Linked DNA regions of Homo sapiens: regions 1 and 2 are each linked to region 3. The links come from fine-mapping of genetic effects on gene expression. A gene starts in region 3. Each other region holds a variant in brackets. All regions are shown on one strand. Distances are between the middles of the regions. Region 1 overlaps SRP14-DT (SRP14 divergent transcript). Region 2 overlaps LOC105370787 (a long non-coding RNA gene). Region 3 holds the start of BMF (Bcl2 modifying factor).

Region 1 (10,376 bases), 60 kb after region 3:
TCACAGGCTGGCAGGGCAGACATTCACACTCTATTCAGAGGCAGGGCTCTGCAAGGGAAGGTAGCAAGTTGGTTAGGGGCAGAGGAGGGGCCGATGATGACAGAATGTCTGCAGAGCTCACAAATGTTCTATGAAGCACACAGTGCCGGCTGTTTGGAACGAAGCAGAAAGGGGTAAGGCAAAGTGCTCAGGATCAAACTGGGGAGATAGGAATGAGTCACAGTAAGTTGTCTTGACGTCCCCGCGGGGCAGTAGGGGACGGTTTCAAAGGGCTTTCAGAATTCAGGGCAGGGTCTTTTCCCACTTGGGTAATCAGGGAAGCCTTCTAGAAGGAGGTGGTATTTGAACTGTGGGGAATGTCAGGAGGCTGCACGAGGGAACCTGGACCTGAGTTGTGGGGACGTTGGTGCCAAAGCAGAAACTGAAGGCTGCCTCCTCCTGGACGAACTACCCAGGGGAAAATTAAACTTACTGGAAGAGTGAAAGATTCCCCCAAGACACTCAAGTGAGGGAGTGGTGTCTACTGCTTCTCCTCTGCCTGCACTTCCTTAGGAGGGCAGGGCTGATTTCTCCTCCCCGTACCCATCAACTTCTGACCTTATACATCTGCCCCACCCTGCCTTTCCATCCTCAGCTCCCACTTCCTTTCCCTAGGAACTGCCCATTACAATCTCTGCTATGACTTTTTAAAAAGCCCATTCGGTCTTTGTCCCCCTTTCCTGGCTCAGAGCTTTAAAAACCTTTGGGATCTCCTGAGTGACAGGAACGCCTTTTGTCATTTGTAATGAGCATTTCCATCATACCTCAGGTTATGATAAGAAGGCAACTCAAGGTGGGCCCTTAATTTTAAGGGAGAGACTGGCCATGCCAGAAAGACCAAGCATGTGATCAGAGTGTGGAAATTTCATCCCTACTCCCATCCCTACTGCACCGCCAACCTCTGGGGCGAGAGGGAAGGACTAGAGATTGAGTTCGTCATGTGGTTAATGATTTCATCAATGGTGCCTGTGGAGTAAAGCCCCATATAAAACTCGACACTGAAACTGCGAGGAGCTTCCTGGTTGGTGAACACACCAATGTGCTGGGAGAGGGACATACCACATTCCACAAGGAGAGGGCATGGAAGCTCTGCACACACACCGCCCCCACCCAACACCTTGCCCTACATAGCTCTTCCCTTTGGCTGTTCTGAGTCTATATGATAATAAAACTAATTGTAGGTATAGCATGCTCAGTGAGTTCTGTGAGCCATTCTAGCCAACTACTGAACCCTAAGTTTGGGTGGTGAGAACTCAAATGTGTAGTCAAGTCAGACAGAAGTGCCAGTAGCCTGTGGACCCTGCGTGCGCCTGAGTTCTGAAGTAAGGGTAGTCTTGGGGACTTTGACATTTAACTTGTGGAGTCTGACACTGTAAAAAAACCAAACTCGGTTTTTCCTACTATGCTCTCTCAACACGTTCCTGACACCACATGGGGGGGCAGGGGTCTCTCCCCGCCACCAAGCAAGCTATCATTTCCGCAGCAGACACTAGTGGGGCATCCTCCAGTTCAACTCTGACTCTACCTGCCGACAGTGTCAGATCACACAGGTTGAGAACTCAGTCCCCTCTCCTCACTTCTGATGCCAAGTGCAAGCCCTGGGTTGTTTCGCCGCTGCTCTGTCTGACCAGCTAATTGGGGTTCACTAAAGCAGCTCACAGAACTCAGGGACAACTTACTTACATGTGTTAGCTTATTATAAGGATAGTCCACAAGATATACATGAAAAGATGCATAGGGTGAGCTATGGAGGAGGGGTGGAGCTTCTTTAACCTCCATGGGTGCTCCACCCTCCAGGAATCCCCACGTGTTCAGCTATCAAGAAATCCTCTGAACCCTGCCCTTTTGGGTTTTTATGGACGCTTCATTACATAAGCCTGATTGACTAAACCATTGGCCACTGGTGATCAACTTAAACTTCAGCCCCTTTTCCCTCCCTGGAGGTTGAAGGGTGGGGCTGAAAGTCCCAATCCTCTAACCCTGTCTTGATCTTTCTGGCGGCCAGCTCCCATCTTGAAGCTACCTAGGTGCTTAGCGTGCAAAAAGACACTTAAAACTTAGGAGATTCCAAGGATTTTAGGAGTTGTATGTCAGGAATGAAGACCTAATTAATACCTGTTTCACAATATCACAGGCACTAACTGCAGGTAGTCAGTGTCAGAATTGACACTGAATCCAATTGCAGGATGCCCCGTTGGTGTCAGAGAATAGTTGTCAGAACATACAAAGAGGACTCTTCCCTAAGATTCACATCACACTCCTTCTCCTGCCTGAAATGGCACTCTGCTCCCCGCAGTAACTAGTCCACTAGTCTGTTTTTCTAAATTCTTTCTTCCCTTCAAAGTCCACCTCCTTCACAGCTTGGTACTAGTGATGCTGTCCTGTAGCCCTTTCTTGCATGTATAACTCCGCACCTCCCACTAGGTAGCATCTGCTTTTGAAGAGAGAGACCTGGGGAAGGCTTGCCCTGGACAAAGGAGTTGCCCGCTAAATGCTCATCGGTGGATAGAAGGGGAAGGCTGCATTGAAGTGAGGAAGGCTGCTGGCCTGGCGAGCATTCCTCAAGAAGAAGCCTCGGCTTCAGGCCTCTCCCCCTCCCTCCTTCCTCTGTTGGCTGTGAGAAGCAGTGTCTTGGGATGGGCCGGGTTTCGGGGCGCTGGATCTGCAGTTCCAGCATCATTGCCCTGACAGTAAATACAAAATTTTGGCATCTTCTCTGCTGCGATTGCCAGGGCTCACCCAGGCCAACACCCGCCCCCTCCCCACACACCACACTCCACACACACACCACACACCCCCACACTCCACACACACATCCCCACCCTCCCCACACACCACACACTCCCCACTCCAGACACACACACCACACCCCCCATACCACACACGCACCATCACCCCACACCCCCTACACACATCCACACACACTACCTCCTTACACACACACACCCACACCGCACCACACACCCCCACACACCACACCCCCCACACACCACATACACCACTGCCCATGCATACCACACCCCCTCACACGCGCACACACACCATGCACACACAAACCCCCCCCACACTACACACTCCTCACACACACACAACCCCCCACACATGCCACATGACACCTCCCCACACACCACACACAACCACACAGACGCACACACCACACCCCACACCACACACACCACCGCCCCCGCACACCACAATCCCCCACACACCACACACTCCTCACACACACCACACCCCCCACACACACCACTCCCCCACACACCACACACCCTCACAACTTCCTCACACTCCCCCTACACACACACACACACACACACACACACACACACACACACAAGGGCTAGACCATGCCTAGCCTATGTCTGCCTCATTTTGGGCCGCAGTTGAAAACCACTAAACATGGCCATAGTCTGGCCTTGTTACTCCTCTCTCCCTTGCTGTTTGGCAAAGGGCCAGTAGAGAACAGTGTGTTCCCCCTTGCACACTTTCTCACCCACCTTCCACCTCACACACTCCACCTTTCCCTGAAGCTGCCTCCAAAAGCCTAGGTTTATGTCTCCTTCAACAGCTCTGACAGAGTCTGGTTGACCCAAGCCATGTGGGTAATTGGTGGGGGCAGACAGCCATGCTACCCATCCCCTCAACACCCTGGAAGATGAGCAGGCAGCAGACAGGTGGGGGCTACACTGGGCTCCTCCTCCCAGGCAGGCCCATGTGAGAGGTTTCACAAAGTGACCTAGAGGCACTTAGGAAGCCCAGGGCCTTCTTCCACATCACTGCCCACGGGGAACTGCTCTGAGTTGCTAGGCCTAGATCTGGCTTCAGAAAAAGCATGGCTCCTGCGTGATCTTTGGGCCTCCACCTTCACTCCTTCTTCCAGCCCCCACCTCCTCTGAAGGCCTCTCTCAGCATATGCTGGGTCTTAGAAGGAGAGAATATTAGCCATTTATACCCTCAGGGAAATTTAAATGGCCATGTTAAGTTTTAGCTGTAACTGGAATGAAAGGCCTGGTCCCCAGTTACAGGAATTGTAAGGAGCAGCTTCAGTGGAAAAGAGGGTTGGGAGGATGGGATGTGTCTTTCCTGGTATTACTGTGACCCACTCCCCATGTTCTGCTTGTCAAGCAATCTGGAAGAATTCTTGCTCTTCCCCACCAAGTGTTGGGCAATCTTCTAGAATACTACCTCTTAAGATATTCTGAGTCCAAATCTCCCAAGATTTTCTCCCAAATCTCTTTATGGTGAGGATCTGGGGAAAACAAAATCCCATCCTATTTCAAGTTCTGAATAGAATACAATTCCATTTTATCTTGCCCTCAATTGGATTCTCATCCTAATTTCTTTCCCAGCTATACTAGCCCCCAAACAGTCATTACAGCAATCCCAAAGTTACCTGACAGCATTGGAGTCTCACATTTAAAACTGGAAGGGACTTTACAGCTCAATCCCAACTCCCCAAGTTACAGAGGAAGAAACTCAAGTCCGGCAAAAAGTGACTTGTCCAAGGTCCCACGCCAATGAGTGGCAGAATTCAGATTAGAACTCAGCACTTCGGCTGCCACTCCAGTGCTGTTTCTGTAAGGCCACAACCACTTCACATCCCCACTCAATTTAGAGTTTGAGGCCTGGAGTTTAGGTACTATTTTTGGAGACATTGTTGGAAGTTCCAGGATGAGGTATTTATGAAGATTCAGTTCTCATTTCCCTCTCCAAAGCTCTTGGCTGGGTAACATGGCTCATGTCTGTAATCTCAGCACTTTGGGAGGCTGAGACAGGAGGGTCACTTGAGACCAGGAGTTTGAGACCAGCCTGGGCAACATGGTGAGACCCCAGTCTCTATAAAATAATAATAATAATAATAATAATATAAAGCTCTTGTTTTGTGTTATATTGCCCTAGTCAACTGCAACCTGGTCTGGGGTAGGAGGAGGCAGGGGGCCAGGGGGTGAGGAGGGCTGCTGAGCTGTGTGATGTCTCTGCTGGGCTCCCAGCCTGGCTGATGGGGGTTTATCCACCCCGACCTGGGAGCAGGTGTGGGCCCTCTGTCCCCAGAACTTCTTGAAGAACAGTTTGTTCTGCAGGGTGCAGCCAGGGTAGGGGGAGAGTTGCAGATACCAGTACAGCCCTGGAGCCCGTTGCAGCTGCTTCCTGTTGTCAGAGGGCTCCTCCACCAAGGGGCTGAGTTCCTTGACACCTCCACGCCCCTGCCTAGTTCTCCGTGTGGTATCCTGCCTCAGTAGGCCAGCAACTTCCCACGGATACCAAGGAAGGCTGTGTTCAAGTAGCAAGAGCTCAGAGTGAGGAAGTGCCCTGTGGCCAGGCACATTTCCAGCCTCGTGGCTGACCACCCCTGGTGCAAACAGGGTCCTGTCCTCACGTATGCAGGTTGATTTCTGCCTTGTCTTCCTTTCCCTGTCTGAAAGATCTTTCCCATCCTGTCTGCAGAGTCAAGTTCTCCCCATCATTCTCGGTTCCATCTCTTCCCCGAAGCTTTGTCTGCAGTGACTCCCTCCCCACCCCCGCTTCACTGGCCATACTGGACTGTCCAGCATGAGAGTGTGGGCCCTCATTTCACACTGCCTTGTCTTGTGGTTTGACATTTCACCTAGGTTTGTTTTGTCTCCTCTTCAAGACTTGAAGACAGGATGATTTGGGTCCTTAACCACTGCCTCCTACTTCAAACGAGATCCCTTACAGAGCTGAGCTCAGAGCCGACCCTGTGTGTAAGGGCATAATAAATCCTGGCTGAATGTCCCGTCTCAGTGTCTCTGTCTTGGTTCCTGCCTGAATTTCAGTCAGCTGAGCCACAGTTCACCCCAGACCCTGTAGCATCTTGGGAGGAGACATTTGGGCTCCTCTGCCTGGTAGTCACGTTGCCTCACTGCAGGAAGTGACCCAGGCCTTGCCGTCTCCCAGCTTGTGGGCCTTCTTGCCTCCAGGTTCCCCTCTGACTAATCATGAGAGTGCTATGGGGCTGACTGGAAGCGACCACTCCTGTCCCAGAAGGGACTTCCCCAGCCTGAATGCTTGCAGGTGGACGGCAAGGGAAGGGGGATAGTGCTGGTAATATGCAAGGTGGTGCCCTCGTCCAGTTCCAGGGACACAGCTCATAGAACACTCCCAAAAGGGGCTGTTCAGCCTGTCTCCATTCTTGCAGCTCTCTTCACCCCAAGCCTCAGGCCGGGCCTGGCTCGTTGTCCCTGGGGGGTCTGAAAGGGGCTGGAGTGGGGGTGGAGTGAGCAGCAACCCGGGACTCTCAGCTCAGCGCTTTTCCCCCCATTGTGAAATGGCCTTGGATAAGGG[C/A]CAAGCAGGAAGCTGCCTCCTATAGCTCCGTGGCCTGGCGCCTGGGGTGTGAGGACGGCCCCAGGCCCTTCCCTTCCCAAGGGAGGGCTGAAGCTGACACACGGAGTCCACCTGCATGGAGACACTGAGCTGCCCTTGGCTAAGTCATGAGGGGCCTATGCCCTCCCTCCTGCTCTCTGTGCCAGCTAGTTTGTGGCAGGCAGAGGGGTGTGTGGAAAGTGCATGGGCCTGGGGCTCAGGGCTCGGGGCTTCCAGTCTCACCTTTGGCATTACCAAGCTTTGTGATCTTGGTCAAGTCATTTTCCCTCTTTGGACCTCACTCAGTTTCTATTCACTTGTGAATAACTAGCAGGTAAAGGGTTGGACTAAAAAGGTCTTGGAGGCCTCTTCCAGCTCAATATTGTGACTCACTGAAGTCAATGATTCATTGATGTTATTACTGGGACTTGGCTCTGATCAGATGGGAGTTTCTTCATTGTGTCTGTCTAGGATTCCCTGTGTAAATCTGCATCTGTGGGTCTGTCACAGAGGTGGAGTGGGCTTCCCCGAACAATCAAGGATGAATGATGACACAGAGGCCAAGAGATGAACAGCATCTGTCGCTTTGGGGAGTCGAGACACCTGTTGGGTAATTTGTGCAGAACTCTGGCTATATAATTTCCTGTCCTTGACTTTCAGACAGGAAACTTTAAATTGGGGACCCCTAATCATCCTGAATAAGGGAGCCCCTCCCCCACCCACTAAACCCATGAAAGTGTGGGGAGGAGGAGGGCAGGAATAGGTGCTCATGCCCCAGACTTCCAGCCTGGCTGGGAATAACTACGCTTGCAATAACTATGCTTGCCTTTCCTGGCCTCAGTTTCCCCTCTTACAATATGGGGTATGCTGGCCCCCTTCTTGAGGTTCAGCAAGGAAGGAAATCCTAGATGAGAAGGGGAGAACCTCTTAAAGTTCACACACATTTCTTGAGTGCCACCACCTGATTCTGTACAAGGATGGCCTTCCAGGCATGTGGGGCCAGGGGCTGCCCATGGAGTGTAGCCTAGAGGGTACTGGCAATTCCTTTGTATCTCCCCAAAGCCCCTATACCAGAAATCCCACCATTAGAGTCTGTTCTTTGTTTAACATCACCTAAGTTTCCTCCACAAATGGAGGGCGTGTGACATACTAACCATTTGTCCTGAACATGTTCGTGTGATTTAGCTACCAGATGGGTTGCCTCCACACAGCTAGCTGAGCTTAGTGAGAGACTGGGATTTTGATGGGGAGGGAGGGAGGGGTGTTTTGCACGACCGAATATTTCTACTCAGGGTACTGCTTGAGAAGGAGAGGAAAAGAACAATGAAACCTAGCTTTTCTGCCATGCTTTCTCACGTATAAGCTTTTATATTCACATTGTCACACTGAACTCACCACAGCAGTGTGAGGAAGATCTTCCCATTTTACAGCTGAGGAAATGGAGGCTCATAGAGATTAAGATGACTTTCCTTCAGAGATACAGCCAAGAAATGCCAAGTTGGACCTGGAATCCAAAGACAGGATTAAGGAGACAGGATTCTGCATGGGAGTGGGAGGGGGACAGGGGCTTGGGATAGGAACCCACACCCAGAGGGAGGGAAAGATGAGGAGTGGAGAGAGAGTCCCAGTTTGTTCCACTCTGCCTAGAGCTGGTCTCTTTTCTGCCTTCCCTCCCTTCTTGTCACCTCTTTGGACAGCTGAAAGACAGCTGAAAGCTCAGCACTCCTGAGCTGCCCGCAGGCTACACTCATTTGCAAGTGCTTCTTCGCACAGAGGTGGCAGGCTCCTCAGCTAGAACAACGCTCACCTCACAGGACTATTGGGGGCTCAAAAGTGGATACATGTAAGCACCTAGAAATGAACCTGGCACTTAGTAACTTCTCAATAAATATAAGCAAGCTATTATCTGAGAAAAAAATAGTCTCTTCTCTAGTGGAGAAGTCAGTCAGCTTCTTGCACCTAGAACAGTGCCAAACACTGCTTGTTTAGCCTTGTTCAGTGAATGGATGAATGATAATCTTTCTGTAACACGGAAAGTTCTAGCCTCCACAGAAGTAATTTTGAAAAATAATGACCACGATCTTGGATATTCTTAGGGTTGATCTAAGGTAAACGACAGGGCAAGATCTGGGAGTGGCTGAGGCGGTCGCCCATGGCTGCGCTCGTCTGGTGAGGCCAGGGCGTCCCCTACTGGCCCAAGACGAGTCACAGGCAGGTCGAGGCCACTCCTCATCTCTGCGATGGCGCGTGGAGGGAGGGCGTGGTGGCGTTGCTGCGAGCGAGGGGAAGGCCAGTGTTAATCACTGACACTTGTGGGCTCCGGAAACTTCCCTAGGGCCCCCAGAAGGGGCTGGGGGGAGAAAAGCAGCAGTTCTAAGAATTTTGGAAGTAGAAGTGACATTAGCAATCTAGCCTAAGTCCTGAACATAACAGTGAAAATACTTTAAAAAATACATCAACTGGGTGTTTACTATGAGCCCTTTACGTGGATTATGTCCTTGAAAGCCGACAACAACCCTCTGAGGCAGGTTCCCTGTGGAGGATAGGGCGCAAGCAAGTACCTCGTGCAGGGCCTCACAGCAAGTTGGGGAGCAGGGTGAGCCTGGGGTCTCTGACTCACAGTCCAGGGCACCTGTGCTGTCTCTCTAGGACACTGGGGCTTGGGATTTAAATCCAGGACTTCATCCTGGGGTGGGGATGGAGAGAGTTCCTGGAGCCCTGAGTTGGCTGAGCAGATACAATGAACACTTGTTGACCAACTGACTGCAGAAAAGAATAAAGGAATTGGGAACTGCCAGTGTTGGAGTGGATTCAGTCCAGGGAGTGTGTTGACGTGTGGCTTCAGGGTGTTTACTCTCTCCGGGCACCCAGGCTTCTAGGACACACTCTCATCTCCCTCCGGCCACTCCTCTGGCCTTCTCTAGGATGGCTCCACCAGAGCTAACCACCTCCCGCTGACGTGGGAGGTCTCCCAGCCTTAGGTTCTAAAATTTGTCATCCCAAAGCCAGACCTGCCCAGTGCCATTCCTCGATGTGTTTAGATGATACCCTCCTTCCTTCATCCAGAACTGACCCTTAAATCAGCACACTGGAGCTACGGTGAGGCAGCTCAGAGCCCAAGGTATAGTTCCCCTCAGACTGAAACTGAAAAGTTAAACTAGCCCAGAGGCCAGTCCTCCGTAAGGTGCACAGTGTCTTGTTGCAATCTGCTCCTGTAGAATGAATCCACCTTGACGAGGAGGACGTAGAACAGCCCACTCCCAACTAAGGGACTGCAGTGTAATAATGCATCCCTTAGCTCATTTACTCCTCCCCTTGACATGAGGTAGGCACTTTTATGACTTCCCCATTTTACAGATGAGGACACTGAGGCACAGAGAGACTTAAGCAATTTTGGAATATGCAAAAAAGATTAGTGGAAACAAATACATTAAAGAAAAAGATAAACTCAAAAACAACAATAACAAAAAACAAAACAAAATAAAAAATAGTGGATGTTTCCAATGAAAAATTATACATTGATTAGAACACAGCCTTCTGGATTAGCTGATTTCTAGCCTTTTATTTCCTTTGCGCTATTTTACAACTCTGTAGGTTGTAGAGACTCAATGGCAATGCAGAGGATTCTTGTCTATGGATGTACAAATGCTTCTGTTCAGTGAAGGGACAACCCTGGGTCCCTCCTGTGCAAAATCCAATTTTACTTCCATTTACAAATTCATTCCAGAATTCCTGATGTTTACTGGATTCCCCTTTGAATGGATTGTAACATACATCTGGTTTCCTTATTAATAATAGGTTAAACATAATACAAAATTTTTTTGAGACAGCATCTCACTGTTTCCCTGACTGGAGTGCAGTGGCACAATCATGGCTTATTGCAGCCTTGACTACCCCAGCTAGGAACCCCATCCAGGAACTAGCGACTGTGTTTTTAAGCATTATACTTTCCAGGCACTGCAAAGTGTAATTGCATTAGAGTAACTGCAGCTGCAAATTAATCAACCCTAACCTGA
Region 2 (10,376 bases), 36 kb after region 3:
ACAAAAAATATATAAAAATTAGCTGGGCATGGTGGCACGTGCCTGTAGTCCCAGCTACTCGGGAGGCTGAGGTGGGAAATCACCTGAGCCCAGGGAGGTTGAGGCTGCAGTGAGCCATGATCGTGCCACTGAATTCCAGCCTGGGTGACAGAGTGAGACCCTGTCTCAAAAAACAAAAAAACCAAAAAAAAAAAAAAAAAAAAAAAAACAACAAAAAAAAGCATGCACATAAGTGGACTCACGCAGTTCAAACCCTTGTTCAAGGGTCAACTGTATTATCATTTGAAACTTTTTTTGTTTTTTTTTTGAGACAGGTCTCACTCTGTTGCCCAGGCTGCAATGGCACAATCATAGCTCACGGCAGCTTCGACCTCTTGGGTTCAAGCCGTCTTCCCTCCTCAGGGGAGGACGTCTAGCTTATTGAGCTAAACAGAACCTGGATCCTAAATCACCACGTTTCCATCTAGTGCTGGGAATACAGCTGTGAGCCAACATGGCCAGCCTGAAACATTTTTATTTTGCTAATTTTACGAGTGAAAAGGGACTTTCTTTTTCCTTCTTTCTCCTTCCTTCCTTCTTTCCTTCCTTCCTTCCTTCCTTCCTTCCTTCCTTCCTTCCTTCCTTCCCTCCATCCCTCCCTCCCTCCCTCCCTCCCTCTTTCTCTTTCTTTTTTTTTGACACAAGGTATCACTCTGTCGCCCAGGCTGGAGCATAGTGGCACGATCATGGCTCACTGCAGCCTTGACCTCCTGAGCTCCTGGGCTCAAACAGCCCGCCCCCTTCCGCCACCCCTCCACCGCCAAGTATCTGGGACTACAGGCGTGCACCAACACGCTTGCTAATTTTATTTTATTTTTTTTTTGAGATGGAGTCTTGCTCTTTCTCCCAGGCTGGAGTGCAGCGGCGCGATCTCGGCTCACTGCAAGCTCCGCCTCCCGGGTTCACGCCATTCTCCTGCCTCAGCCTCCCGAGCACAGTAGCTGGGACTACAGGCGCCAGCCACTATGTCTGGCTAATTTTTTTTTTTTTTTTTTTTTTTTTTGTATTTTTAGTAGAGACGGGCTTTCACCGTGTGTTAGCCAGGATGGTCTCTATCTCCTGACCTCGTGATCCGCTCGCCTCGGCCTCCCAAAGTGCTGGGATTACAGGCGTGAGCCACTGTGCCCTGCGCTAATTTTTTATTTTTTATTTTTTATTTTGTAGAGACCAGCTATGTTGCTCAAACTGGTCTAGAACTCCTGGGCTCAAGCGATCCTCCCACCTCTACCTCCCCATTCGCTGGGATTACAGCCATGAGCTACAATGTCCACCCAGAATGAGACATTTCATTGTTTAACTTTCACTTTCTTATTTTCTAAATTAGTAAGAAATATTTAAATACTTAATTGCCATTGTTTCTTCTGCGAGTTGTCTCTTCCTTAGTATTTGGCTGTTTTTAACTTTTGGAATTAGTATTTTATTGTCTACGAGAATTCTTTATAAACTGCTATTTGTCTTACAATTTCACTTCGAGTCACAAATTTTTTTCAATGCAGCCAAATCAAGCCTTCCTTTGTGACTTCTGTTGCATTTATGCTTATATAACTTTTCATATAAAAATGTTCAAGAAGGCTGGACGCAGTGGAATGCACTTGTGGTCCCAGCTACTTGAGAAGCTTAGTCAGGAGGATCACCTGAGCCCAGGAGTTTAAGGCTGTAGCACACCATGATCATGCCTGTGAATAGCCACTGCACTCTGGTCTGGGCAGCATGGCAAGACCCTGTCTTGACTATATATATATATATATATTTTTTTTTTCAAGTCTTTACCTATACATTCTTCTCGTTTCTTTCTTTTTAAATTGCTTCCTTTCAAAAATAATAATTATTTAGCCTAACTAGCACGTGTGAGGTAAGGAGCTACCTTAAGTTCTTCTTCCCCAACAGGTAGCCGGCTCCACGCACTGACCGCAGCTCTGAGGCTGACACTTCCCTGAAGACCCAGAGTGTGGATCGTCAGTCAGGACTTCCATCTTGCTCCCGCAGCCCTTCTGCATGAGTGAAGTCAAGTGAGCGTGAGGCCGTTCACCACTCTCCTGGTCTTTTCCATTTCTCACTTGGTGCTCCCCTCAGTAGCAGCACATGCCTCTAAGCCCCTGTGTATTCATTCTGCCAAGAAAGTCCCAGTGCTGTAGTGCCACGCGATTGGCCGAGATGGCTAAGATACCCCAACTCACTCAATTCCCTCCTTCTCCTATCACTAGACTGCAGGGGAACCATTTTCATTCCAATGGTGTTATTTTCCTGCCCCGTGTACCTCTTTCCCTTTCAGCTTTTACCCAGGATCTTGCCAGTCTTTCTTACTGGAAATTCCCGTCCTCAACCCCCTCCCCTTTGGGAGGTAGGAAGTCATTTTTGCTGACTCATTTGTCCTCTGCCCTTCTGCTGCCCCACGTTGCTTCCCCCTTTCTCCAGAGCCACTGGAGTCTTCTCCACAAGGTTTACTTTGCGGCCTTTATGGAAACCAGCCCCTCTACTCTTTTGGGATTTGGAGTTTCAGAGCGAGTTCCTGTTGGCTCCGGGCCCACTGTTCACCTGGGCTTCTGGCTTGCTTACGGTCCTACCTATTTATCAGAGGTGACAGCCTGCTGGCAGTCCTCAGAGCCCTCGCTTGCTCTCGGCACCTCCCCTGCCTGGGCTCCCACTTTGGTGGCATTTGAGGAGCCCTTCAGCCCCCACTGCACTGTGGGAGCCCCTTTCTGGGCTGGCCAAGGCCGGAGCCCACTCCCTCAGCTTGCAGGGAGGTGTGGAGGGAGAGGCACGAGTGGGAACCGGGGCTGCGTGCGGCCTTGTGGGCCAGCTGGAGTTCCAGGTGGGCGTGGGCTTGGTGGGCCCCGCACTCGGAGCAGCCAGCCAGCCCTGCTGGCCCCGGGCAATGGGGGACTTAGCACCCAGGCCAGCGGCTGCGGAGGGTGTACTCGGTCCCCCAGCAGTGCCGGCCCACCGGTGCTGTGCTCGATTTCTCGCTGGGCCTTAGCTGCCTTCCCGCGGGGCAGGGCTCGGGACCTGCAGCCCGCCATGCCTGAGCCTCCCACCCCCTCCGTAGGCTCCTGTGCGGCCCGAGCCTCCCCGACGAATGCCGCCCCCTTCTCCACGGCGCCCAGTCCCATCGACCACCCAAGGGCTGAGGAATGCGAGCGCACGGCGCAGGACTGGTAGGCAGCTCCACCTGCAGCCCCATTGCGGGATCCACTAGGTGAAACCAGCTGGGCTCCTGAGTCTGGTGGGGACGTGGAGAGTCTTTATATCTAGCTCAGGGATTGTAAACACACCAATCAGCACCCTGTGTTTAGCTCAAGGTTTGTGAGTGCACCAATCGACACTCTGTATCTAGCTGCTCTGGTGGGGCCTTGGAGAACCTGTGTGTGGAAACTCTGTACCTAACTAATCTAATGGGGACGTGGAGAACCTTTGTATCTAGCTCAGGGATTGTAAACGCACCAATCAGCGCCCTGACGAAACAGGCCACTCGGCTCTACCAATCAGCAGGATGTGGGTGGGGCCAGATAAGAGAATAAAAGCAGGCTGCCCAAGCCAGCATTGGCAACCCGCTCGGGTCCCCTTCCAGGCTGATAGAAGCTGTGTTCTTTCGGTCTTTGCAATAAATCTTGCTATTGCTCACTCTTTGGGTCCACGCTGCGTCTATGAGCTATAAGCTATAACACTCACCGCGAAGATCTGCAGCTTCACTCCTGAGACCACGAGCCCACCGGGAGGAACAAACAACTCCAGACGCGCTGCCTTAAGAGGTATAACACTCACCGCGAAGGTCTGCAGCTTCACTCCTAAGCCAGCGAGACCACAAACCCACCAGAAGGAAAAAACTCGGAACACGTGTGAACATCAGAAGGGACAGACTTCAGACGCGCTACCTTAAGAGCTGTAACACTCACCGCGAGGGTCCGCGGCTTCATTCTTGAAGTCAGTGAAACTAAGAACCCACCAATTCCGGACACATTTAGACTTGTTTCTCAGGTCGGGGGTGGCGCACGGTTGATTTCTGGCTGCCTTTAGTGCTGATTGCGAAAGCGAAGGCTTGAGACCAGGCGTGGTGGCTCACACCTGTAATCCCAAAACACTGAGAGGCCAAGGTGGGAGGATTGCTTGAATCCAGGAGCTGGAGCCCAGCCTAGGCAACATCATGAGGCCCCGTTGCTGGAAAAAAAAAAAAAAAAAAAAAAAAGGGAAGAGTTGGAGCCCTGGGCTTGTCCCTGGGCCTGGTGGGCTCTCTAGTGGGTGGAAACAGCAGGCAAGTCTTCTTTATTCTCAAGTCCTGCGGATCTTTTTTTTTTTTTTTGAGACGGAGTCTCGCTCTGTCCCCCAGGTTGGAGTGCAGTGGCGCCATCTTGGCTCACTGGAAGCTCCGCCTCCCAGGTTCACGCTATTCTCCTGCCTCAGCCTCCCGTGTAGCTGGGATTACAGGCACCCGCCACCACGCCCGGCTAATTTTTTGTATTTTTAGTAGAGACGGGGTTTCACCGTGTTAGCCAAGATGGTCTCGATCTCCTGACAGTGATCTGCCCGCCTCGGCCTCCCAAAGTGCTGGGATTACAGGCGTGGGCCACCGCGCCCAGCCTATCACTTTTAATAGAGAAGGAAAGAGGGGCGGAGGAGCGGATGGAGGAGTGATGTTAATGGGACATGCGCACTTCCCTAGCACTGCACTAGGGTGTCAGGGTACAGTTGATGCCTTGGGAGAACTGGAAACTCCTGATTTGGGAGAGTGATGGTATTGGCTGGGAGTGATTGTCATACATTCTGAACTCTGATGCCCGTTCTGAGACCCCTGGGATGCCAGGCTCTTCCCAGGGAATAGCGTTGACAGCTAAGCTGCTTCAACAGAAAGGCCACAGAGGCGACACATTCCCGTTTGTCCCCGGCCACTAGAAAGTGTTTCCAGGAGAAGCGGGTTATGAACAACCCATCACCTTCTTTCAGATGGGGTATTGTGGGAGCCCTAATGAGAGGTGCTAATGTTCTTCCAGCCCCAGGAGCTCTCTTTATCCCTGTCTCCCTCCGGGATCCTCCGAACAGTCTGCCTCCACAGGTGGCATTGGTAGGGAGGCCCCAAGCCAGGTGGTTAGCCGACTTCCGACCCACCTTGTGCCTCGGATCCCCCACCGCTCCGCTACGGCTTGATTTCAGGATAAGCCTCAGGAATGGACCTTTTGGGTGAGGGG[G/A]AGAGGAAAGAGACCGATTTCCTCGAGAGAGGTGGGGCAGGGGAGCAGCTGAGAGAAAGCTGCGCCGTCTGGAAAGGAAGCCAGAAAGGAAGACAGAGTCTCTTTGAGCTTTTCCCACCAAGCTCACAGGAAAATTGCAAAAACATCATTGGACTGGATCAGGATGCGAAGGGAGCAGCCAGGAAGGCGCGGCCTCTTTGAAGGCTCCCGCTCCGCGCGAGGCGTGGCTCCCGGAGGGGTACACCAGCTGGAGTGAGGAACAGGGCTCAACGCCCGCCCGCCCGACAGCCACAAGGGAACGGGTTGCGTTTTGTTTTGTTCCCAGTGGTCCCCAGGGCCGAAGGGGAATATAAGGAGATGCTGTTGAGCTGGCTAGAGGGGACGGGAGGCTCGAAGCGAGGCACGCAGTCAGGCACTCCTGACGAGAAGAAGCAAGACTTACACAAGGGCAAAGGCCTCCTACTGGAGAGATGAGACTAGTGAGGCCTGGGGACAGCTCCGAGGGCTGGGGAAGGTCAGTGTTGGCTTCAGGCGGGGGTATAACTAGACCTGGCTACTTATCTTGTGGGGCTCAGTGCAAAGTGAAAATACGGGCCCCTTATTAAATTATGAAGCGTTTGCTGGGTGTGGTGGCACGTGCCTGTAATCCCAGCATTTTGGGAGGCTGAGGTAGGAGGATCATTTAAGCCCAGGAGTTCAAGACCAGCCTGGGCAACATAGTGAGAGCCTGTCTCTACAAAAAATAAAAAATTAGGTCAGGCACAGTGGCACATGCTTGTAGTCCCAGCTACTCAGGAGGCCGAGGTGGGAGGATCACTTGATCCCAGGAAGCAGAGGTTGCAGTGAGCCAAAATTGCATCACTGCACTCCAGCCTGGGTGACAGAACAAGACCCTGTCTCAAAAAAATAAAATAAAAAATTAGTGGGCGTGGTGGTGCATGCCTGTGAGTTCCAGCTGCTAGGGAGGCTGAGGTGGGAGGATAGCCTGAACCCAGGAGGTGGAGGCTGCAGTGAGCCAAGAACATGCCACAGCACTCCAGCCTGGGTGACAGAGCAAGACCCTGTCTCAAAAAAGACATATATATATTGCGGCAACAGAGTTTTAAACCAAATGCAAGGCCCTTCTAAGCATTGGGCCCTGTGCTACTGACTACCCAGGTCAAGGTGTGAGGTTACCCAGTATGAAGGGTCTCCAACCTACTTCATTAAAGGCCACCAAAAGGAAGAGTCCAGATGAAGGCCAGGGGAGAAAAAAAAATCAGACTCCTTGAGGAGTCTTTTGGTTTTAAAAAATATTGGGGAAAAATAGAGTCTCCATTAACAGCATGTTTTTAACTTTTAAACAGACCTTCACATCTCTGGAACCATATAACAAAGGTGACAATTTTATGAGCCAAGTTATGCATGGCACATTTTATGTGCCTAAACGACCTAAGTGATTTTTGTAGGTCCTTCAAGGACAATAAAAAAGTATTGTAGAGGAAAAGATTTGTATATATTTATATTTCGCCACCAAATGTCAATATTTCTTTTATAAAAATTCATCCCTCCTACCATGCCTCTTATCTGTTCAAAATGTTTGGACATTTCACTTCCCTAGTCTAGGCCAGTTTTTAATTTTAATTTTTTTAACTTTTTAAATTTTTGAGACAGGGTCTCGCTCTGTTGCCCAGGCTGGAGTGCAGCGGCGCAATCTCGGCTCATTGCAACCTTTGCCTCCCAGGCTCAAGCGACCATCCCACCTCAGCCTCTCGAGTAGCTGGGTCTACAGGCATGCACCACCATTAGCCCAGCTAATTTTTTAAATTTTTGTAAATACAGGGGTCTCCTTATATTGTCCAGGCTGGTCTTGAACTCCTGAGCTCAAGTGATCCTCCAGCCTCGGCCTCCCAAAATGTTGGGATTACAGGAGTGAGCCACCATGCCTGGCTCCAGGCCAGTTTTGTTTGTCACCTGACACTGTGTCCTCTTTCAGTTTGGAGACCACAACTCCGCAGGGTTGTTGGGTTAGTGTCCTTTGGTGGGCCACACATTTCCCCAGCCCCCCAAGCCCCAACCCACCCCACTCAGTTAGCCAGTTGGTATTATACATGTATTAGAACTTTCTCTGAGAACAGAGCTCACAAAAAAGTAAAGATCTGAGAGCTTCTGGAGGGGGACAAGGGAAACTCAGGGCAGGTGCAGAAGCTGGTGCCGGGGTAAGGGCCCCAGCTGCCATTCCTCTGCTCTCCCGTGTTTCCAGTGCCCCCTCACCCCTGTGTCAGCTTCCTCCCCGGGGAAGTGGGGTTGGGTGGGGATTACCACTGCCTACTGGGATGGGCGCCGGCTTCATCTGCAGGGATTATCAGGCCTGGTGGAGCTGGCTCCAGCAGCCACAGCCCTCAGGGCCTGACCTCCCCTGCTCTCCACCTGTGACCTCAGAGAGCAGGGGCTGTCACTCTGGGTATGTGGCCTGGTGTTTTCTCTCCTCTGTGGGGTTTTTTGGACCTCTCAGTATCTCTCTCAGAGAGATACTGACCATCCCCTAAAATTTGGAGACTGCCCAGTGGTGTGATTTGTCTTCCAGCAGTCAAGCCAAAGAAACCTTTGCTCAGCAAGACTGGGTCCATGGAGCTCCTTAGCGTTGGAGGAGCCATCAGCTCCAGATGGAGCCGTTACCTTGCCCTGAGGACGTTATGCCACAGCCCATCGCCCAGGGGAGAGGGACCCAGAGAGCCTGGGAGGAGCAGTAAACCCAAAAAGCAAGAAATGCCCTTTCCCCCAGGCAAGCCCCGCTTGCAAACCCTGACTCGAACAACTTCTTAGCAGGGACGCAGTGAGCCCTCAGGTGGTCCCTGCCACCCGGCCAATCCCCCTGCAGGGTGGAGCTGCCGAGCCAGAGCAGAGCCCAGGCCCACAAAGGTTTCTGAGAAACAGGGGAAGAAAGACCCTGTCCTCCATCTGGACACCAGAAATGAGGCTTGCTTCACCTGTTCTTCCTGCTGACCAACACCAGCCTGGCTCAGCAGCCTCCCTCTGTCCTGGAGTGGTGGGAGTGCCGGGGGCAGGGGCGTCACAGCTGCATCCCCCAGCCCAACCCTCAGCCTCCCCCTACCCCACCCCCGCTCTGCACCCAGTCTGTGGGGCCACAGAGCAGCCTCAGAGGCAGCCTGGGACAGGAAGAGGCCTGACCAGGGACAATCCCCTGGGGAGAACCAAAAGGGCCTAGGGACTGAGTGCCTGACAAGCGGCCCTGCCACACTGGCAGTGAAGGCGGTGGCAGGGAGCACAGCCGCGGTGGCAGCCGGCGCCCAGGGCAGGCCTCGTGCCCTTGTGGCCAGGGTGACTGAATCTGCCAGCTGTGGGGCCCATTCGTGCCAAGTCTGCCCTGGCTCCGTCTGGTCGTAATCGATGCTGGCGCCAGGCCAGGCCCCCTGCCAGCTCCGGTCACACTCGGCTAACGCGAGAGGCCCAGCCCATTAACTCCTTGCCAAGGCCCATTGTCTGGGTCCTTGCCCGGTGGTTTATTTACTCCAGGGCTGGCCGGGCCAGGGCTGGGAGGCGACAGCGGGGTGGACTGCGGGTGGGGCAGTGGGGTGGGGGGTGGGGAGGGTTGGGGAGGCTTAGGCCTGAGGAGGGGGCTGAGAGCAGGAGTGGGGCAGGCAGGACGGTGGTTTCCAGAGCCCAAGGGCAGGGCATGCTGTGAGGGTTTTTTGTGTTTTGTGTTTTTTTTTTGCTACATCAAAGATTCCTTGTATAGGCAGATGTACCTCCAGAGGCCCACCCAGTACCTTAGGGGTGAGAGAGGGCACTGGAGACACAAGACCTTAACTCCCCAGACAGCCGCCTTCAAAGCCCCTTAAATAATTTTTTTACATGACCTACCCTCTTGTATTTAAGTTGGCATTTGAAATTTTCCATCAGAAATTTAAATAGTTCCAAAGGATATCCTTTTTAGCATTTTATGAATATTTTTTCACTTTCTATATGCCTTTATTATATTTTATAGTCAAAAAATTCAAAGAAAAATGAATATTGATATTTTCAAATACAAATTGTATCTTTCTTTTAAATGTCCAATGGAATCTAAATGCCAGAGCAATTCTGTGTCCAACATTATCCATTAAAAAAAATAGGGGAACAAACGCTAATTAAACAGCTTAGAAGTTTACATTATTTCGTTCTCTCCAAGAACTTGTATTTCCATTTCACTCCTGTTACAGATTTTATGCTAATGTAAGGGTTTTTTTTTGTTTGTTTGTTTGTTTTTTTTTTGAGGCAGGGTTTTGCTCTGTTGCCCAGGCTGGAGTGCAGTGGTGTGATCCTGATTCACTGCAGCCTCAATCTCCTGGGCTCAGGTGATTCCCCCACCTCGGCCTTCTGAGTAGCTGGAACTACAGGCCTGCACCACCATGCCCTGCTAATTTTTGTATTTTTTGTAGAGACACAGTTTCACCATATTGCCCAGGCTGGTCTCCAATTCCTAGGCTCAAATGATCCGCCCACCTCGGCCTCCCAAAGTGTTGAGATTATAGGTGTGAGCCACAGCACCCAGCCTGTATTTATTTTTTATGCTTGAAAATCTTTTATTGGCTAGGCATGGTGGTTCATGACTGTAATCCCAGTACTTTGGGGAGGCTGAGGCAGGAGGATGGCTTGAGCCCAGGAGGTCAAGGCTGCAGTGAGCCATGATTGCACCACTGCACTCTAGCCTGACTAACAAAGGGAGAAGTTGTCTCAAAAAAAAAAAAAAAAAAAAGAAAGAAAGAAAAATCTTTGATTGATTATTGTATTAAATAAAATTTAAAGATTAAAACTTCTGGCCGGGACTGGTGGCTCACACCTGTAATCCCAACACTTTGGGAAGCCGAGGGGCAGATCACGAGGTCAAGAGGTCAAGACCATCCTGGCCAACATGGTGAAACCCTGTCTCTACTAAAAATACAAAAATTAGCTAGGCGTGATGGCACACACCTGTAGTCCCAGCTACTTGGGAGGCTGAGGCAGGAGAATCGCTTGAACCCGGGAGGTGGAGGTTGCAGAGAGCTGAAATTGCGCCTCTGCACTCCAGCCTGGGTAACAGAGCAAGACTCCTTCTCAAAAAAAAAAAAAAAAAAAAAAATTCCTCTGTTCCCAAAGCTGAGCATTAATTTTTTGGTTATGAGTTTAGTGTTAGAA
Region 3 (10,156 bases):
ACATTTGACCAGGAAAAAGGCTGACATCCTGGGAGAAGTAGAGTTAAAGAAAGTGTATTTCTGTTGGATTTCTTCATTCCTTGGCAGGATAAAGCTAACTTCTTTTCCACGGGCTGCACACTGGGTTGAGGAGAGGGGAGCTGAGGATACTGCCCTGAGGGCCTGGCTCATAGTTTTTCCAGTAAATTTGTCTCCAAAGACTTAGTGAGTGACTCATGTGCCAAGCCTGGAGCAGAGCAGTCGGAGGGTATCAAGGAGTAGATGGCATCACCCTTGTCTTCTTGGAGGATCATCTCGCTGGTGAGAAGAAACTCAGTCAGATAAGCTGGGTGCAGTGGCTTGCACCTGTAATCCCAGCTACTCAAGAGGCTGAGGTGGGAGGATCGCTTGAGGTCAGGAGTTTGAAATTAGCCTGGGCAACACAGGCGGACCCCCATCTCTATTAAATAATTTTTTAAAAAGAAAAAAAAAAGAAACTAAGATAAGACCAGGCATCCTAAATGGCAAAGCCAATGTAGACAGGACATTTATCGGGAATCCCCCACTGTAGCTTTCTTCCCACTTCCTAATACAGAACTACTTGTACTTTTTAAACGTGTGAATATACATTCATTTACTCATTCAACAAATATTTACCGAGTAGTCCCCCCAAATGAAACTGAACATATGCTGTTGTCATACTTCATGGGATCTTGGACTTCACATCTTATCTTCCAAGCTTTCCCAGAGGGTAGCATGCCAGCTTTAGTCCTTAGTTTCTGTATTTCCCTTTACATCCAGGTCTCTGAATTCCCAGATGCTTTCTCTTGAGTAGAGTACCTGCTTTTTCTATTTGAATCCCTCTGAATCAGCAATTGGCAAGAAGTGAGCTCATTGACTAGGCAATCAAATTTCTTAACTTGCCCAGTTAGTAGAAGCCAATCTGTCTGTTCTGGCGCACACACACACACACACGTGCGCGCACCCCCGCCATACGTGTGTGTGCACCCGCACACACGCATACACACACACCCACGCACACGCGTGCACACACGCCCACAAACACCTACCAGCGCACACACACGTGCACACACATGCACGCACACCTACCCACGCACACACACGCGCACACACACGCATACACACATGCACACACATTCGTGCGCACAAACACACACTCTCTACAACTCAGAAGAGAGGAACTATCCTTTGCAGACAGACGGATAACAGATAAAGTCCCTTTGATAGGGCAAGTCCGGCAAGGGAAGGACACCCACGTCTTGCAGATCCCTGGTCTTTCTTACATATATGAGCTCTTCTGGAAGTAGTTAAGGGGGTCAGGCACCATGTGCTCCCCCAGCAAGACCCCAACCTTACCCATAAATCAGTTTCCCATCTAACCCCTCCCTGGGGGTTGAGTTACAAACCTCAGTAACCCCAGGGCAGCCTGCCTGGTAATTCCTATTATTCAGCTGTCAGCTGGTTTTTTAAAAACCGCCCTTTCCAGTGATCCAGTTACTGGAGTTTTAGAGCCATTTCTTGTCTCAGAGAGAAATCCTATAGCCAGGTGAGACAATGGAGAGGGCTCCTGCCCGCTTTCTACAGGAGCTGGGTTTTCTCTCTGGTTGAGAGCAGCCTCCCCTTAACTCTGTATCCCTCCAAGATTGTCAGGGAAGGCCCTCCTCCCTATCAGCCTCCGTGCTGATGCCTTTCTCTGGGGACCCTTCTCCCAGAGCCAGCATCAGTTAGCAGAGGAGAAAACAAATTGAGACAAGGTGCAGGAAGAGAATGAGAGAAAGGAAATTCTCCAAAATAGAGGTTGCTGTGACTGCACTGTGTATTTGCTCCGAGCCCAGTCAAAAGCTCAGGGTTCATCTGTTCCCAGGGTGCTGCTATTGGTCAGGGGGCTCAGAGCCCAGATCTGCAGCACAGCAGGTCCTGATACTGCTGAGTCCATGCAGTGCTGAAAGGGGGAAAAGGGCATAGAGGGAGGAGTCTGCTTTGACAGTGATGAGAGGTGGGGGTGAGGCTCCTGACCTCCCTGACCCCTTTATCCCTGACAGTCCTTCTCTGGTCCCTCTAGCTCAGAAGGCTGGGCCCCTTGCTGCTTGACCTTAGAGACTGAGAGCGCAGGAGGCAAAGCCACAGGTGTCTTTCAGAACCAGCCTGAGGGAGCAGGCTGTGAAGACCTGGGAGAGAGGTCTTAAAATAAATATCAATAGTGATGTGACCCTCCCCATATCTTGCAAACTGCCAGACCCCCTGAGATACTCCCTCCTGTTCCTCAGCCCAGTTCTGTCACAATGACGATTTTCTGAAACCTTTATAGGGCCACAGACCACTTTATGAAACTGTTGTAAGCTATGGATCCACCCCACTCACAAAAATGTTTGTGTGTACCCACAAACACAGTTTAGCCAGTTTCAGGGGTTCATAAACCCTAAAGCTCAGGACTCTGATGAGCCTGATGAGTACATAGATCCCATATCAATATCCCATTCTTGGCTGGGTGCGGTGGCTCATGCCTATAATCACAGCACTTTAGGAGGCCGAGGTGGGAGGAGTGCTCGAGGCCAGGAGTTCAAGACCAGCCTGGGCAACATAGTGAGACCCTGTCTGTACAAAAATAAAAAATTTAAAAAGTAGCTGGCTGTGGTGGTGCACACCTGCAGTCCCAGCTACTTGGGAGGCCGAGGTGGGAGGATCACTTGAGCCTGGGAGATTGAGGCTGCAATAAGCTGTGTTTGCACCACTGCACTGCAGCCTGGGAAACAGAGCAAGACCTTGTCTCAAAACAAACAAAAAGAACCCATTCTCTCAGCTTCTTTGCCTTGTGGACCCAATTTTACCATGCAGGGCTGTGATGAAGCACACAGAGCTTTAGCATCTCAGGTGGGTCAGGAGAGCTACGATGGCCCCAGCCCTCAGGGCCTGTGCTGTCCCAGAGGGCAGATTCAGAGCTGCTGTGGCCTTGAGTTTCACTCTTGAACCGAAGGAATGCTCAGGGGCACCACTGGCCAGCCTGAGACACTGGTCTGATAGGAAAGCAAATGAGAAGAGAAGGATGGAAGGAAGGAGCGGAAGGGAGTCGGTGCATTGGAAATCACGGAGGGCTGCCGGTGCCCTTCACAGAGGCTAGGTTTGGTTTCTGTATCTCCCTACATGTAGCAGGAGTGCAAGGTCACTCTGACCAGCTCAGACATGCACTTTTGGCCAAGCCTCTGGGTAAAATAATATACCTCCTTTTGGCTTAGTGCCTTTTGCTGGAAATCTATCAATTTCGGGGGACTGTGCTACTGGCTAACCTTGACTCCCCACTCTTTCCCTTTTCCCTCTTTGTCCTTTGGAGACAGTATTTTTCTATTCTAGCAACCACAGCCCTCAATATGGCTGGTTCATTCTGTTTCAGGTGACTTCTGAGGGAGCAAAGGAAAGAATGATGGGAAAAAGGTACAAGGAGACTTCAGGCTCTATTGGGCTGAAGGTCCCAGCTCCACTGAACTTAAATCTAAGTTTACAACCCAGAGAGCAGCTCGGTGGTCAGAGCACTGCTGAGCCCTACTGCCCCTGGTGGGTCAGGGTTGTTGCAGGACTGGCTCCCTCTCACTGCTCTCTGGACTCATCATTTTATCTTTCCTAAAACTCAGGCTTGGTCAAGTCACTCATCTCCAATAAAATCTTTGCTGCCTCCCCTTTATAAAATACAGATTCTTCAGTCTGGCATTCCAGGGACACCTCTGTAGTCTGACCTGAACCCACCTGCCCATGCCTACCGTTCGTAAATCTCAGTGTGCACCCAATGATCCAGTCACCAAGCCTCCCTCTGCTCCCTGCACAGGTAAGCTCTCCAGCTCAGCACTTCAGTCTGCTACCCTTAGGCCTGGGCTATTCTTTTTTATTTTATTTTATTTTTATTTTTTTGAGACGGAGTCTCATTGTCGCCCAGGCTGGAGTGCGGTGGCGCTATCTCCGCCCACTGCAACCTTCACCTCCTAGGTTCAAGCAATTCTCCTACCTCAGCCTCCCAAGTAGCTGGGATTACAGGCATGCGCCACCACGCCCGCCTGATTTTTGTATTTTTAGTAGAGACAGGGTTTCCCGTGTTGGCCAGGCTGGTCTCCAACCACTGAGCTCAAGTGAACCACCCGCCTCGGCCTCCCAAAGTGTTGGGATTACAGGCGTGAGACATGTGCATCTGGTTTTCCTTATTGAAAAATATTTCCCATTCAATTTAAAAGCTGTCTCCCTGAGGCCTTCTCCAGCCTTTGTATTCTGAATTTTTCTGCATTCCTCAATAGTCATTATCCTTGGAATGAATACAATTCCAATAACTTTTCACTATTTTCAGGGCTACCTCTCCTAGTAGACTGTAAGCTCCTTGAGGGCAGACGCCAGGTTTCTGGCACTCAGCCCAATATCTGGCACAGAGTAGGTGCTCGGTAAATGCCTGTGAAGTAGCCCATAGACTCCCTTACGCGGTCTGCAGGACATGCTGCTCTCCTGGCAGCACCAGCACAGTCTCTAAATGCTGCCATATGCGAGATATGTGTCAACCGCTCAAGCAGCCCCGGCCTTCTTGAGCGCTCCGCTTCTCAGCCAGGTGCTTATTTTGCCAGTGCCCACGCCCAGTCAAGAAGAGGACCTAAGGGCTCCCCTGGATGTGTTTGTTTCAAACACACCTTCAGCTTTGGAGCTGCAGTTTTCTTCCGACCTGCTCGGCAGGCGGGAGGGAGCTTTCCCCTGAGGCTGGGATCCCATAGGGACCCGCACCCTGCACCCTGCACCCACTGGACGCACCAGCCTCATAAAAAAACTCCCCGCCTCCTTCCCCCCTCCCTTTGTGGACGCGCAGCAATTATTCTGCCCATTGCCGTGAAAAAGAAGACAAAAGTTACTTTGGCGCCCCCTCTCCCACACCTAATACAGAGGATTCAGGGACTCTCTGGCGCTTCCAGAGCCTGTGTTAGGGACAGAATCCGCACTGGCGACGGCGCTCCGACTGCGCTTCTGGCGACGGTCGGAATTTTGCTCGGCCCCTTGCAATGTTTCCATGGGAAGGTTCGTACATTCGTGACCGTCCCTGGCAGCGGCCCAGCCCGGGACTTGGCGCTTCACTCGCCATTGGTCAGTCCTCGGCGTGACGCGCAGGGGGGCGGGGCCTCATCAGCTGTTTGCGGGATGCCCCGAGCAGGCGTATTTTGGAAACAATACCGCACCGTGCGGAGTGGCCTCCTCCCGCCCCGGCCTGTGCCCGCCGCCGCCGCCGCCCCTGCCTGCGCCTCCCGCCTCCTGCCGCAGCCCGGTGAGCGCCCGGGTGGCCGCCGGGGGCCGGGCGGAGTTGGATCGCAGCTCCTTGGGGAAGTGGGGAGCGGAGTCGCGCTGCGCACGGGGGCCCGGGAAGGGTTTGGGCTGCGGACGTCTGGGGTGACCATGAAGAACTGGGGCGCTGGGGTGAGGGAACGGGGTGCAGAACCCACAGTTGGGTGCGCTGCTCCAAGAGGGAACTTGGGGGTAGCATTTGGGACTCGAAGGAGTTGGGTCCAGGTAGGCAGGGGAACCTGGGGTGCACTGCTGAGCAGACCTGGGCGCCCGAGAACGGCCCAGCCTCTGGGTCTGACTTTGGGATAGGACAGGAGCTGTGGGGCATCCTGCCTCTCTGCGGAGTCTGAAGGCTCCTCTCCTTAACAGCTGGGCTTTTTCCCTCCTTCCCAATCGAGTCTGGGCGTCCAGCCCCCGAGTGCTCGTCACGCTGGACCCTGGCGCGGAGCCCTGGCATCACGACTCGGAGGCCGAGACTCTCTCCTGGAGTCACCCAGGTCTGGGGTGTGTGTGTGTGTGTGTGTGTGTGTGTGTGTTCCTAGTCACTGTCGAGGATCTGGGTGTCTGACTACTGCCTTCTCCTAAGAGGAGGAGGAGTCTAAGTTCAGCATCCCTCTTCCAGCCCTTAGGGGTTGGGATGGCTGCAGCGGGGCTTGAGTTCCTTTGCTAGGAATAAAGCATTCCCTGGCCCTGTTCTCAGGAAGTGCCCTCCTCCTCCCACCGCTCTGGACATCACCTCTTAAGCTCAGGAGAAAAATTTCACCCTCTCTTAGTTTACCCTTGACCTTGGCCAGCACCCCTCCAGAGGCGCCCACCTACAGGCAAGCCACCTACAGTTTGTGGAGCGTGAGAGGGGTCCCTGGGGCTTGCAGAGCCACACCTTCTGGCTGCACCTCCCCCACTGTCCAGTCCAGGCAAAGGTTGAACTTTGGGGCTTTGCTGGGAGGGGGAGGGGAAGGTGATAGGCTTCAAAGGAAAAACCAAGACAATGACTCGTGCTGGTGATTGGCTTTGAGGGCCCCTTCTTAGGTCAAGATTGCTAGCCTGAGAAGAGGAGGTTGGAGAGCTGGAGGGGAGCCCCTGCCAGGTGACTGGCGGGACAGCACTTGGTCCTTTCATCAGGAAATTTTGTTTCCTGTTGTTAATAAGCTGGAGTGCACCACCTCACCCCCCTCCCCATACACACACACACACACACACACACACACACACACACACACACTTGGGAAACACGGTCCAAAGAACACCACGTGGCTGCTTGCCATCCTAGCAGGCATCTCCTCATTCTCCAGGGAAGAGGGCACAGACAGGACCATAGACAGCTCAGGGACAGGGATGGGATGGGACGAAGGCAGGGCCCAAGCAAGCAGCTCACAGCTTGTGTTTGGCAAAGGCAGCATTCTGAATTGAACTGAGATTCTTTTAGCTACTTCACCAATCCATAGACCATTTGGCTTGTTCTTCAAAGGCAAGAGACTAGGGGACAGAACCCCCAGGAATCTCTAATTGAGTCTGACAAGAATGAAATTCATCTCTTTTTATCCTTAGCTGTTCAGGTGGTTGCTGCTTCTGGCTGCTGCAGGGGCCCTAAGCAGTTCCTGGTATGTGTAGGGAGCTGGGTTGGAAGCTTAAGATGCTGAGTAGCTCCAAGCTCAGACTTTCAAGAGCCATCAGGTGGAGCAAGAGGAACTTCTTTATCACCAAGAAACTCATATCAATAACTTCAGCAGTATAGGCAGTGAGTGAGGTCACAGGGAGAGGGCTGAATTTCACTTCCTTCTGTAAGACCAGTTGTACCAGTCTCAGGTTCAGAGCTGGCAGGAGCGGGAGGCTGTGGAATCAGGGATTTGAAGTCGTGGAGACTAGTGAGGAGACTTAGTTGGGAGAGGCTGGACCTACCCTCTAGGCCAAACTTTGGTGGGCAGACAGCTCAACTCTGCTCAAAGAGAGCCGAGACGGCAGCTGCAATGACTAGCTTGGGTCTTTATCCCCTCTCCCAGGACACATTCTTACCACACTGCAGAGCCTGTTTGTTGTGTTGTGCAAGCAAGGGGTGGAGATTAGAGTAGATGGGCAGCAGGGCGGGGCTTAGAGGTTTGGAGGGAACCTGGCTGTCCTAGGATTGCTGGCTTTTGTTTTTGCTGCTGAGCCTGGAGCTCAGCTCAGACTGAGATAAGAATTTCCTTGGGACAATGACTCTGTATGTGTGTGTGTGTGTGTGTGTGTGTGTGTGTGTGTTGTGAGCACTGTATGTATAGCCAGTCACAGCACCCTTGACAGCAACTTACAGAGGCTAGTCTTGTTTATATTTTCCCAGGTACCCTGCATGCATATAGCTGCTGATTCTACTCCTGCTATTGCTCACAACCCTCAGAGTCAAACTTTGTGACCGGCCTAGGTCAGAAAACGTGATCAAGAAAAAGGGTGGTTCCAGGCGGGCCCAGGGAAGAGGTGTGGAGAGCCCCTGAACATTCAGGCAGTCCACATTTGGGGAGTGAATGTCACCCTTAGCAGTGCTTTATTACCAGGGTTGTATGTCATCAGTATGTGGTCCGGCCAGCTCAAATAAGAAGGGGGAGTATGGTAGGAAGAAGGGAAGGGGAGTCCTTCCAGGTATGGCCCTGGTGGGGCAGCAGCCCAGATGCCTGCGTTGCCCCCTCACAGGAGAGATGGAGCCATCTCAGTGTGTGGAGGAGCTGGAGGATGATGTGTTCCAACCAGAGGATGGGGAGCCGGTGACCCAACCCGGGAGCTTGCTCTCTGCTGACCTGTTTGCCCAGAGCCTACTGGACTGCCCCCTCAGCCGACTTCAGCTCTTCCCTCTCACCCACTGCTGTGGCCCTGGCCTTCGACCCACCAGCCAGGAAGACAAAGCTACCCAGACTCTCAGCCCAGCCTCCCCCAGCCAAGGTGTCATGCTGCCTTGTGGGGTGACTGAGGAACCCCAGCGACTCTTTTATGGTGAGTGCTCTCAGCCTCAAGACTCCTCCCATAGAGACTGGGGGAAAAGAGGGGACTTTCCCTCCCCAAACCTGCCCTTTGCTGTTTCCTTCCCCCAAAGTGATCAGCGGGGCTGTTGATTCCTTGACTTCCACCTGCTGCCTCTCGGCTTGTTATTGCTCCTCACCTGTGCCTCAGACCCCCCAAAGGGCAAATTGTCCCCTCCTGGAGGGATCCTTGGGTCCATGGTATCTCCTTTTACATCTTGTGCCCCTTGAGTGGCCTGGCCTTTAGTGTCCTAGCAGTGACTTGCCTACTATAAAGTGGCTCCTGTTGCCCTGGAGAAGTCTGGGGGATCTGTGACTGGCTGTTGACAATGAAGGGAAAAACCCAGCCGGTTCTGGGAGGGAGGGTTCCCAAAGGCAGAAGGTGGCCCCCAGTTGCCACATGGGACTTTCTGTGTGTGAAAGGGGAACTGGAGAAAGAGGTTGGGCCTGCCTGGGCCCAATGCCAGGAGAGGGGATGCTTCCAAGGCTAAGACAAGACCCCTTCATTTGTGGGCTTAAATAGTTTGTTTTATGAGAAATATGCCCTCCTCTGGCAAAAGGGCAGGGTTAGACAGTCTGTTTTCTTCTATTAGCACTGCAGCTTATGGAGGGAGGGTAAAGGCTAGGAGCGTGGCTTACTGTGTCTGACGAGCTGATTGAGGAGACACTGCAGTTACTCCCAGAGGGAACTGCCCCTTAGGGCAGTTCTGGCAAAGCAGTTCTGGCGGGAGTCTGAGAAGTTGGATAAGGCGGGCAGGCGGGGAAGAGGGAAAGGAGCGAGGAGCCCGGCGGACTGGCGCCCCTAGCGGTGGTTCTAACGCGTGCACTGGGTAAGTGTGGAGCGCTGGTCTAGAGGTCTTGCCTGGGGCTGTCTCCGGAGAGCAACTTGGCAGCTCTGTGCGTCTCAGTTTTCTCTCCCTCTTTTTGTGCTGCTGCCCAGGAGCTTCGGGAGACCAGCCTTACTCTACTGCACTAAAAAAGTGAAGACACTTTTTGATTTTTTCTTGCTCTGCCTCTTACTTTGCTCAACCCAGAAACTGGAGAGCTACCTCCAGTGCTTTTCCAGAGAAGAGCTTCAACCTGCTACTACGTGAATAACCAACTGTGGTTAAGGGTAGCTTGATAAATAAGGACGGAAGGCTGGCATGTTCGCCTGCACACGTTACCACCTGCCCTTTGTCATGGCACTGTCAGTGAATGGAGAAGCGAAGAGAAGGCTGGGGCCATTCTTTCTGTTCTGCAACTTTTATGCACTTGGGCAGCAGGCTGTCCAAGCTTGGCAGAGTGCTCCAATAGAGGCAGGCTGGCTCCTATCCTTTCTCATATGAGGATTTACCCTCAGCCTCCAATCTTGGCCAGGTCAGGCAGGCGTAGGGAGGTTGGAGCAGTTGTGGAGAATGCTGAGATGTGGATCCTCTATCTTTGCAGGCAATGCTGGCTATCGGCTTCCTCTCCCTGCCAGTTTCCCAGCAGTCTTGCCCATTGGGGAGCAGCCCCCCGAAGGGCAGTGGCAACATCAAGCAGAGGTACAGATTGCCCGAAAGCTTCAGTGCATTGCAGACCAGTTCCACCGGCTTCATGTGCAGCAAGTAGGCACGGGGGTTTAGGGGAGGAGGGTTGAGTCTGCTGGGGCTTGGGGGCCAGGGCCTGCCTCTCTCCTCTTGTCAGCAACTCTGTCTCTGCCAGACCTCAAGGATATTGTCCCAGAGTTTTGGTTATGGCGGTTCCCATGGGCAGGAGGGGCCTAACTGGCTAAGCATCTTGCCCTCATCTCTGAGCTCCACATTGGTTAACTGCCCAGTCTCAATTCATGTTCCATAAGAGCCCTCTCGGGAGAGGCTACAGTCTGGGAATAGGATGGCTTTCTGCAG

What was found.
Region 1: its variant is fine-mapped to the expression of BMF in whole blood (TOPMed, PIP above 0.99). The same link has a PIP of 0.9 or more in blood mononuclear cells and monocytes.
Region 2: its variant is fine-mapped to the expression of BMF in whole blood (TOPMed, PIP 0.98).

The regions. Positions count from the first base shown.
Region 1 is chr15:40,043,449-40,053,824 of GRCh38, reverse strand. It overlaps SRP14-DT (SRP14 divergent transcript), which reads right to left. Exons shown (of 3, transcript NR_040060.1): 2 at 7,756-7,864. Among named protein-coding and RNA genes, the nearest start is that of SRP14-DT, 9.3 kb to the right of the region's middle. RefSeq lists enhancers at 5,852-5,981, 6,322-6,451. The variant C/A (reference allele first, on the strand shown) is at 6,343.
Region 2 is chr15:40,067,571-40,077,946 of GRCh38, reverse strand. It overlaps LOC105370787 (a long non-coding RNA gene), which reads left to right. Exons shown (of 3, transcript NR_188231.1): 3 at 1,927-3,660. Among named protein-coding and RNA genes, the nearest start is that of SRP14-DT, 33 kb to the right of the region's middle. RefSeq lists enhancers at 385-885, 8,016-8,135 and silencers at 8,266-8,325, 9,444-9,627. The variant G/A (reference allele first, on the strand shown) is at 5,220.
Region 3 is chr15:40,103,898-40,114,053 of GRCh38, reverse strand. BMF (Bcl2 modifying factor) reads left to right here and starts at 5,175. Exons shown (of 5, transcript NM_001003940.2): 1 at 5,175-5,281; 2 at 5,668-5,795; 3 at 7,963-8,259; 4 at 9,714-9,874. The coding sequence starts at 7,968. RefSeq lists silencers at 5,118-5,367, 6,852-7,146, 8,962-9,154 and enhancers at 5,877-6,572, 8,143-8,192, 8,413-8,462, 9,687-10,156.